3 linked regions of the Homo sapiens genome follow. The protein of the gene in region 2 purifies or fractionates together with the protein of the main gene of each other region. This does not show direct contact. Each region holds a gene or a part of one and is shown on either strand. Other genes may lie near its edges. The genes, in order: UBAP2, HAO2 and PPM1A.

Region 1 (3,654 bases), on a different chromosome or scaffold from region 2:
GAGGTCAGGAGTTTGAGACCAGCCTGGCCAACACAGTGAAACCCCATCTCTACCAAAAATACAAAAAATTAGCCAGGCGTGGTGGCGGGCACCTATAATCCGAGCTACTCGGGAGATGGAGGCTGGAGATTCGCTTGAACTTGGGAGGTGGAGGTTGCAGTGAGCTGAGATCGGGCCACTACACTTCAGCCCAGGCGATAGTGCAAGACTCCGTCTCAAAAAAAAAAAAAAAAAAAGGAACAGTAGAACCTGCAGAGTGACTCATACCTATAATCCCAGGACTCTGGGAGGCCAAGCAGGAGGATCACTTGAGTCCAGGAGTTCAAGACCACCCTGGGCAACATAGCTAGACCTTGTCTCTATTTTAAAACAACAACACAAAGGAATAGTAAACCTATAATGTAGGGTAATGGTTACCTCAAGGAAAGCGAAAAGAAATGCCTTGGGAGCTGGCATACACAGGAGACTTCCAGGTAGCAGTAATGTCCTATTTCTTGGTTGTTCATTTTACTTTTTTTTTTTAATTTTACATATGGGGCCAGGCATTAAGCTCACACCTGTAATCTCAGCACTTTAGTAGGCCAAGGCAGGAGGATCACTTTAGCCTAAGAGACCAGCCTGGGCAACATAGCAAGACTCCTCTCTACAAAAAGAAAAATTAGCTGAGCATGGTGATGCATCCCTGTGGTCCAAGCTACTCAGGAGGCTGAGGTGGGAGGATGCCTTAATCCTGGGAGATAGAGGCTGCAGTGAGCCATGATCATGCCAAGACACTCCATCCTGGGCGACAAAGCAAGACCCTGTCTCCAAAAAAAACAACTCTACATATGTGTTTACCCCCAACCACCTTCTACGTTATACAATGACAACTCTACATGTTTTTATGCCTCATATATCATCTACGGTATGTATGCTGTTTTTTGGGTTTTTCTTCTGAGACAGGGTCTGTCACCCAGGCTGAAGTGCAGTGGCACAATCACAGCCCACTGCAGTCTCAACCACCCAGGCTTAAGCAATCCTCCAACCTCAGCCTCCTGAGTAGCTGGGACTACAAGCACACCATGCCCAGCTAATTTTTGTATTTTTAGTAAAGACAGGGTTTTGCCACGTTGTCTAAGCTGCTCTCCAACTCCTGGGCTCAAGTGATTCACCTGCCTCGGCCTCCCAAAGTGCTGGGATTACAGGCATGAGCCACCACACCCAAACTATGCTGTATTTTTCAATAAAAATCAGCAAGTATGCAAAGTATGATCCTATTATTTATGGAGATAGGGTCTCACTCTGTCACCCAAGCTGGAGTGCAATGGCACAATCATAGCTCACTGTGGCCTCAAGCAATCCTCCCACCTCAGCCTCACAAGTAGATGGGACTCTGGGTACATGCAATCATGCCCAGTTAATTTTTACATTTTTTTTATAGAGACAGGGTCTCACTATATTGCCCACGCTGGTCTCGAACTCCTGCTCAAGAAATCCTTCCACCTCAGCCTCCCAAAGCGTTGGAATTACACGCAGGAGCCATGGAGCCAGGCTCCAACTTTTTTTTTTTTTAAACATATACTCCATGTTTCAGGGGGAAAAAAAAGGCCAGGCACAGTGGTCCACAACTGTAATCTCAGCACTTTGGGAGGCCGAAGCAGGTGGATCACCTGAGGTCAGGAGTTCAAAACCAGCATGGCCAAAATGACAAAATCCTGTCTCTACAAAAAATACGAAAATTATCAGAGCACGGTGGCAGGCTAATCGCTTGAACCCAGTAGGCGGAGATTGCAGTGAACAGAGATCACACCACTGCACTCTGGCCTGGGTGACAGAATGAAACTCCACCTCAAAAAAAAAAAAAAAAAAAAAAATTAGCCGGGCGCGGTGACTCACGCCTGTAATCCCAGCACTTTGGGAGGCCGAGGCGGGCAGATCACACACGAGGTCAGGAGATCAAGACCATCCTGGCTAACACGGTGAAACCTTGTCTCTACTAAAAATACAAAAAATTAGCCAGGCTTGACAGCACACGCCTGTAGTCCCAGCTACTCGGGAGGCTGAGGCAGGAGAATGGCGTGAACCTGGGAGGCGGAGTTTGCAGTGAGCCGAGATAGCGCCACTGCACTCCAGCCTGGGCAAGAGAGCAAGACTCTGTCTCGAAAAAAAAAAAAAATTAGCTGGGCGTGGTGATGCATGCCTGTAGTCCCAGCTGCTTGGGAAGTTGAGGCACAAGAATCACTTAAGCCAGGGAGGCAGAGGTTACAGTGAGCCAAGGCACCACAGCACTCCAGCCTGGGCGACAGAGAAAGACTGTCTCAAGAAAATAAAAATAAAAGAAGAAGCCAGGTGTGGTGGCTCACGCAAGTAATCCCAGCACTTTGGGAGGCCAAGGCAGGTGGATCACCTGAGGTCAGGAGTTCCAAGACCAATATGGCCAACATGGTGAAATCCCATCTCTACTAAAATTACAAAAATTAGCCAAGTGTGTTGGCAGGCGCCTGTAACCCCAGCTACTCAGGAGGCTGAGGCAGGAGCATCACTTGAACCCGGTGGGCAGAGGTTGCAGTGGGCGAAGATCGTACCACTGCACTCCAACCTGGGTGACAGAGCGAGACTCCATCTGTAAATAAATAAATAAATAAATGAAGAGTATTACCTAGTCTTAAATAAAACACCTACTCTACTCCTTAATGTGAGCCCTATTTCATACTTCAAATCCAAATAGTTAACTGGATTCCAATTCAATTATGCTATGTCCAGCATGAAAATTAGTTATCAAAAAATGGAAACTTATCAAACATTGTTTACAAACGGGTAAAAAAAGGCTGGGCGCCGTGGCTCACCCCTGTAATCCCAGCACTTTGGGAGGCCGAGGCGGGCGGATCACGAGGTTAGGAGATCAAGACCATCTGGCTAACACTGTGAAACCCCGTCTCTAATAAAAATACAAAAAATTAGCCGGGCGTGGCGGCAGGCGCCAGTAGTCCCAGGTACTCGGGAGGCTGAGGCAGGAAAATGGCATGAACCCAGAAGGCGGAGCTTGAAGTGAGCCGAGATTGCACCACTGCACTCCAATTTGGGCAACAGTGAGACTGTCTTCAAAAAAAAAAAAGGGTAGAAAAAAATAAAAATTAAAAAAAAAATTTTTTTTTGAGACGGAGTCTTGCTCCATCCAGGCTGGATGAAGTCCAATGGCACATGGCTCACAGCAACCTCCACCTCCCAGGTTCAAGCAATTCTACCGCCTCAGCCTCTGGAGCAGCTGGGACTACAGGCACGCGCCACCACACCAGGCTCATTTTTGTATTTTTAGTAGAGACGGGGTTTCACCATGTTGGTTAGGTTAGTCTCGAACTCCCGACCTCGTGACCCGCCCGCCTCCGCCTCCCAAAGTGCTGGGATTACAGACATGAGCCACAGTGCCCAGTCACAAAAGAAAATTTTTAAGGAGCATCTTTGAGAAACTTAAAAAATGTCAAGTAAACTCAGCAGGAAATATCAGCATAAGTGGTTTACATTAAAATTGTAAAAACTAATCTGATAAATTTGATTCTTTGAGTTAGTAAAAAAAGGATCCTATTCCTAAATACTTGATAGTTGGGGCAAAATTACTTCAAAATCTACCACAAAGATTACATGGTGATATTCCCTACATGTCCTCCCTCTCTTTGC
Region 2 (3,654 bases):
CCAGGTTTCAACTCCTGATATCTCAATAAATACACATATCCTATACATTACACACTCATAGAAAGGCTGTTCTACACAATTCTAGCATATAAATGCCACAAACATTATGTCTAATCCAGAAGAAATGGCTCATGCTCACTCAGAGTCATGTGTCTAGAATAGTGTCAGTTATGTGATTTGAAAGCTGCTTGGACATAAAGAATCAACCCTAGCATCTTATATATAACAAACACTATTTTATCTCATTTCGATACCTCTTCTAATTTTTCCTTAGACTCTTTTCTATCTACAGCTTTTTCTCAGTGTCCCTGTGAAGAAGACAGAGAAGGTATTAGTCTTCCTACTTTGCATTTAAAGAGACTGAGGCCTCAGAAATAAAATAACTTGTGAAAGATCAGTGATATGGTTTGGCTGTTTCCCCACCCAAATATCTTCTTGAATTATAGCTCCTATAATCCCCACATGTCATGGGAGGGGCCTGGTGGGAGGTAATTGAATCATGGGGCTGGATTTTCCAGTGCTGTTCTTGTGAGAGTGAATGAGTCTCATGAGATCTGATGGGTTTATTTATTTATTTATTTTGAGATGGAGTCTCACTCTGTCGCCCAGGCTGGAGTGCAGTTGGTTCTGGACTCATGTGTTCTGGTAGCTTCTAAAGATAGACATTCTCTATTTTCAATTTAACGTAAAGAACAAAATAGTTGGTTCTCATAAATTGCTTGCTATATTTAAGAGAATTTTCTAGGTTTAAAAATACAATTATGCATTTTTTTCTTTTTATAATGTATGTAAAGCTTAGCATGATCTCAGCTCACTGTAACTTCTGTCTCCCCAGTTCAAGCAATTCTTCTGCCTCAGCCTCCTGAGTAGCTGGAATTACAGGCATGTGCCACCACACCCAGCTCATTTTTGTATTTTTAGTAGAAACGGGGTTTCACCATGTTGGCCAGGCTGGTCTCAAACTCCTGACCTCAGGTGATCCACCCACCTTGGCCTCCCAAAGTGCTGGGATTACAGCCATGAGCCACCATGCCTGGCCGAGCTGATGGTTTTATAAAGGGCAGTTCCCTGCATGTGCTCTCTTACCTGCTGCCATTTAAAACATGCCTTTGCTCCTCCTTCACCTTTCACCATGATTGTGAGGCCTCCCCAACCATGTGGAACTGGAAGTCCATTAAGCCTGTTTTTCTTTATAAATTATCTAGTCTGAAGTATTTCTTTTACAGTATGAAAATGGACTAATACAGTAAATTGGTACCTGGTAGTGGGACGCTGCTATAAAGATACCCGAAAATGTGGAAGTGACTTTGGAACTGAATAATAGGCAGAGGTTGGAACAGTTTGGAGGGCTTAGAAGAAGACAGGAAGATGTGGGAAAGTTTGGAACTTCCTAGAGACATCTTGAATGGCTTTGACTAAAATTTTGATAGTAATATGGACAATGAAGTCCAGGCTGAGGTGGTCTCAGATGGAGATGAGGAACTTGTTGGCAACTAGAATGAAGGTGACTCTTGCTATGTTTTAGTAAGGAGACTGGCAGTATTTTGCCCCTCCCTTAGAGATCTGTGGAACTTTGAACTTGAGAAAGATGATTTAGAGTATCTGGCAGAAGAAATTTCTAAGCAGCAAAGCATTCAAGAGGTGACTTGGGGGCTGTTAACAGCATTCAGTTTTATGTATTCAAAAATATATGGTTTAAAATTGAAACTTATTTTTAAAAGGGGAGCAGAGCATAATAAAAGTCTGGAAAATTTGCAGCCTGATGATGTGATGATAGAAAAGAAAAACCAATTTTCTGAGGAGAAATTCAAGCTGGCTGCAGAAATTTGCATATGTAACGAGGAGCCAAATGTTAATTGCCAAGACAATGGGGAAAATGATTCCAGGGCATATCAGACATCTTCTCTGCAGACCCTCCCATCATAGGACTGTAGGCCTAAGATGCAGGGCACCAGGGCCTTGCTGCTTTGTGCAGTCTCAGGACTGGTTGCCCTGTGTTCCAGCCATGGCTAAAAGGGGCCAAAGTACAGCTCAGATTGTAGCTTCAGAGGGTGCAAGCCTCAAAGCTTGGCAGCTTCCACATGGTGTTGGGCATGTGGATGTGCAGAAGATAAGAACTGAGATTTGGGAAGTTCTGCCTAGATTTCAGAGGATGTATAGAAACACTTGGATGTCCAGGCAGAAATCTGCTTAAAGGGGCAGAGCCCTAATGGAGAACCTCTGCTAGGACAGTGCAGCAGGAAAATGTAGGGTTGGAGCCTTCACACAGAGTCCCCACTGGGGCACTGCCTAGTGGAGCTGTGAGAAGAGGGCCATCATCCTCCAGACTCCAGAATGGTAGATCCACTGACAGCTTGCACTGTGCACGTGGAAAAGCCACAGACACTCAACATTAGCCTGTGGAAGCAGCCAGAAGAGAGGCTGTACCCTGAAAAGCCACAGAGGCAGAGCTGCCCAAGACCATGGGAACCCACCTCTTGCATCAGTGTGACCTGGATGTGAGATATGGAGTCAAAAAGATCATTTTGGAGCTTTAAGATTTGACTGCTCTGCTGGATTTTAGACTTGCATGGGGCCGTAGCACCTTTGATTTGTCTAATTTCTCCCATTTGGAATGGCGGTATTTACCCAATGCCTGTATCCCCATTGTATCTAGGAAGTAACTAACTTGCTTTTGATTTTACAGGCTCATAGGTAGAAGGGACTTGCCTTGTCTCAGATGAGACTTTGGACTGTGAATTTTTGAGTTAATGCTGAAATTAGTTATGACTTTGAGGAACTGTTGGGAAGGCATGATTGGTTTTGAAATGTGAGGACATGAGATTTGTGAGGGGCCAGGAGTGGAGTGATATGGTTTGGCTGTGTCCCCAACCAAACCTCATCTTGAATTTTAGCTCCCATAATCCCCACATGTCATAGGAGGGTCCTGGTGGGAGGTAATTGAATCATGGGGGAGCGGGTTTCACCATGCTGTTCTCATGATAGTGAAAAAGTCTCATGAGATCCGATGGTCTTATAAAGGGCAGTTCCCCTGCACACACTCTCTTGCCTGCCACCATGTAAGACTTGCCTTTGCTCCTCCTTTGCCTTCTGCCATAATTGTGAGGCCCCTTCAGCTATGTGGAACTGGGAGTCCATTAAACCTTTTTTTCTTTATAAGTTACCCAGTCTCAGGTATTTCTTCATAGCACTATGAAAATGGACTAATACAATCAGGTAGTAAGTTATTATGAGAGATGGTTCTGAACTCATGTGTCCTGGTAGCTTCTAAAGATAGACATTCTCATTTTCAATTTCAGGTAAAGAACACAATAGTTGGTTCTCATAAATGACTTGCCATATTGAACTCGAGATAATTTTGTAGGTTGAAAAATACAATTATATATTTTTAATATAATATATGTAAATCTTAGTAGTCTATTATTTTGGTTAGAGGTTTAATATAAGGTTTATAATTAAAGAAAAGGATACCTTCCTTGTTCAAAGCTTTTCCTAAATTTGGAAGTGAAGAACTTAGCACAATATATTTGTATATACTTTCTTTCAATTTGATCCCTACCAGCCTTGAAGCCACCAGAAATTAAAGGGAAGATTCAAGTAATCTAATGGTTTTCTTGTATTCCCACTTTATTTTGTCTTCTTGTATTCCCATTT
Region 3 (3,654 bases), on a different chromosome or scaffold from region 2:
CCATTCTTCTGCCTCAGCCTCCCAAGTAGCCGGGATTACGGGCATGCGCCACCATGCCTGGCTAATTTTTGTATTTTTAGTAGAGACGGGGTTTCACCATATTGGCCAGGCTGGTCTAGAACTCCTGACCTCATGATCCACCCACCTCGGCCTCCTAAAGTGCTGGGATTACAGGCGTGAGCCACCACACCTGGCTGCCTTCTTATATGCTTATACAGGAACAGATGGAGAAAGAGATTCGGAAAGGTTCAGTAGTCACACTATTACTAAGTAGTAGAGCCAGAATTTAAACCCACATTGGTCTAATTTCATAACTTATTTTCTTTAGTACTTCATGCTATTGGTGAATTCGTAGAGGAAGGAAGTTTGTCATTACTATTCTTTTCTGTTGGTTTGTCTCTTAAATGTGTTTAATTTTTTGAGTTTCACTCACGTCTCTTTTTTTCTTTCCTTTTCTCAAGGTAGTGGAGTCTTTCCTCTGTAAAACTTCACCTTGTTGTTTCTAGTCTAGGATAGTGGTCTTGTAACCTAGGATAGTGGTCTTGGTTACTGCAATTTTGGTTGATTATTTCTTGTTGGCCCTTAATGTGCCCCCATCTTCTGCCTTAGGCATTCCATCTAATCTTTTCCAGCAGTTTGCAACCTTACTGTGCCTCAGAATCACATATGAAAATTTAAAAATCATAGATACCTAGGTTCCAACCCTACCCTGGAAATTCTGATTTGGAAATATTTATTTTTCAAAAAGTCCACAGATAATTCTGTTGCACAGCCATGGTAGAGACCCATTTTCTTAGGGGTTAATGATGCTTTAGAGTCACGCAGACTTGAATCAGAGCCCTGATTCCTTTAAACTTATTAGTTGAGTGATCTTGGCCAAGTTCTTTAATCTTGGCTAAGGTTCTTCATCTATAAATTGGAGATAATATTATTATCTACCTTAGAGAGTTGTTGAAGAGATTAAATGAAGTAATGCTTGTAAAACACTTACCAGAGGGACTTAGAATACTTCTTAAACATTGCCTGCTAATAAGGTGTCATTATTACGTTATCCTTTATCCAATCAAAATACTCACCTTTGCAGTGTGTATCAACTTGATGTCAGAAAAATAATCTGATAAATATCACCATAAGGGATGGATGATAGCTAGTTTTCATTACTTACCTTTCGTTAGTTGAACTGTACTAGGAGGCAGAGGAGTAGGCAGATGGTTTTATCACGCCAATCAGCCAGTCTTTTCTGCCTATGTATCAGTTTGGACCTATAAGGAAAATGAAGGGGAAAACAAATGTTTTTCTTTCCTTCCTAGGAGGATTTTCTTCTTGCCCTTTTTCTCCCAGTTTCCTCTCTGAGCTGAGTATCATTAGCATCATCAATACCCTAGTTTCAGAGCTGCGTAGTGATTTACCTAGATACTTTTCTCCACCATTATTCCCTACTACCTAACTCCTCTTCACCTCCATTAAATCTCTGTTCATCATGCTATCCTTCTTTTGGATTGCCTTTAGTTCAGTTGTGACTTACTTGATTACTTGAACCCAGGTGTCTACATTTCTAAGCTATTGTTCAAGTAAGGGCCAAGGTAAATTCTAACCAGCTGTCTCTTTGCCTTGTGTGGGCCCATTCTAGACCAGCGGGTGTTAACTTTTGAGTATTGGAAAAGGATTAGATTAGCTGAGCCTTCAGGCTTGTCAGCAGGGCTGTCACTAGACCCTTTGATCTTCTTTATATACCTAATGGTCATAGAGTATAATAATAATGGTACATGTTATTACTATATGATTAATAGATTACTAGTAGTAATTTTGTTATATATGTATACAGTACACTTCGTTATGTATATATATAATTGCTTGCAACTTGAAATTTGAGGCTACAACATTTACAGTAATTTAATAACTTAACTGACTTTATCAAAAACTGAAAAACCTCATGGAAAAGGTAGAATGTAAGGTAGACTTAAAAGGATAGGTATACTTTTTTCTATAAATAGGATGAGGCAAGAGTTTCCAGTTAAGGAAACTGACATGAGCAAAGGCTTGAAGGAGCATGCAAATTTGGAGCATTGTGAGTAGATTATTTTTTAGTTTTTCAGAGTTCATGCAGTGGGAATAAAACTAGGGAGTTTGGAATCAAGCTTGAAAATTCCTGAATGTTCAACCAAGATATATTTGAGTTAGTAGATTTTTTGGGTATGTCATGAATTCGTTTGGCTTTTCTTAATTGATATACATACAACTTAGTCCTGAGCTTACACATGTTCATTGTATCATTAAACATTTAGCCTGGTTGGTTTAAGTTGATGGCCACTGCCAGGTCTCCTTTCTGCCTTCTCCCCTTTATCCCAATGCTTTAGTTTTTTTCTGCCTTTTTGTCTGTTGTGATCTGTGCTTCATCAGGCTTTCCCCCAGTTCCTCCTTGTTAATCTCCAGATTCCAAGTCAGCAACACAATGAATGTCTGCTTATCGCGAGTTGTGAATTCCCGCATATCTCTTTCACTTATTAAAAAGATTGTTTGGTACATATTTTGTTTATAAGACAGTTATTGACTTTCCTGTTTCTCTTCCTTTGCAGACCTAGAGGATCAAGACATAATGGGAGCATTTTTAGACAAGCCAAAGATGGAAAAGCATAATGCCCAGGGGCAGGGTAATGGGTTGCGATATGGGCTAAGCAGCATGCAAGGCTGGCGTGTTGAAATGGAGGATGCACATACGGCTGTGATCGGTTTGCCAAGTGGACTTGAATCGTGGTCATTCTTTGCTGTGTATGATGGGCATGCTGGTTCTCAGGTTGCCAAATACTGCTGTGAGCATTTGTTAGATCACATCACCAATAACCAGGATTTTAAAGGGTCTGCAGGAGCACCTTCTGTGGAAAATGTAAAGAATGGAATCAGAACAGGTTTTCTGGAGATTGATGAACACATGAGAGTTATGTCAGAGAAGAAACATGGTGCAGATAGAAGTGGGTCAACAGCTGTAGGTGTCTTAATTTCTCCCCAACATACTTATTTCATTAACTGTGGAGACTCAAGAGGTTTACTTTGTAGGAACAGGAAAGTTCATTTCTTCACACAAGATCACAAACCAAGTAATCCGCTGGAGAAAGAACGAATTCAGAATGCAGGTGGCTCTGTAATGATTCAGCGTGTGAATGGCTCTCTGGCTGTATCGAGGGCCCTTGGGGATTTTGATTACAAATGTGTCCATGGAAAAGGTCCTACTGAGCAGCTTGTCTCACCAGAGCCTGAAGTCCATGATATTGAAAGATCTGAAGAAGATGATCAGTTCATTATCCTTGCATGTGATGGTATCTGGGATGTTATGGGAAATGAAGAGCTCTGTGATTTTGTAAGATCCAGACTTGAAGTCACTGATGACCTTGAGAAAGTTTGCAATGAAGTAGTCGACACCTGTTTGTATAAGGTAGCTAGACTTTTTTTAAAAACATAAAATGATTTTATGCCATATTAATCACTACTCTAGTATTTAATCATCTTAGAATCTGTAATTCTGAAACCAGTTTTTGGCACAACTGTAGGATACTGTTCACCAATTATGAAAATATATCATAGGACCACTATGTAGAAATAAATTACCCAATTACCATCTCTGCAAGAGTTATAAGCTGAATGTTTAGTCTTACTACT

The links.
Region 1: the proteins of HAO2 (region 2) and UBAP2 purify together in Homo sapiens (affinity purification with mass spectrometry; 2 studies listed by BioGRID and IntAct, with this or other methods). This does not show direct contact.
Region 3: the proteins of HAO2 (region 2) and PPM1A purify together in Homo sapiens (affinity purification with mass spectrometry; 2 studies listed by BioGRID and IntAct, with this or other methods). This does not show direct contact.

The regions. Positions count from the first base shown.
Region 1 is NC_000009.12:34,042,261-34,045,914, forward strand, and holds part of UBAP2 (ubiquitin-associated protein 2), read right to left. Parts: intron 1-3,654. UniProt on the Homo sapiens protein: Recruits the ubiquitination machinery to RNA polymerase II for polyubiquitination, removal and degradation, when the transcription-coupled nucleotide excision repair (TC-NER) machinery fails to resolve DNA damage. May promote the degradation of ANXA2.
Region 2 is NC_000001.11:119,375,170-119,378,823, reverse strand, and holds part of HAO2 (2-Hydroxyacid oxidase 2), read right to left. Parts: intron 1-3,654. UniProt on the Homo sapiens protein: Oxidase that catalyzes the oxidation of medium and long chain hydroxyacids such as 2-hydroxyhexadecanoate and 2-hydroxyoctanoate, to the correspondong 2-oxoacids.
Region 3 is NC_000014.9:60,280,108-60,283,761, forward strand, and holds part of PPM1A (protein phosphatase 1A), read left to right. Parts: intron 1-2,576; coding exon of another isoform or gene 2,577-2,596; coding exon 2,597-3,430; intron 3,431-3,654. UniProt on the Homo sapiens protein: Enzyme with a broad specificity. Negatively regulates TGF-beta signaling through dephosphorylating SMAD2 and SMAD3, resulting in their dissociation from SMAD4, nuclear export of the SMADs and termination of the TGF-beta-mediated signaling.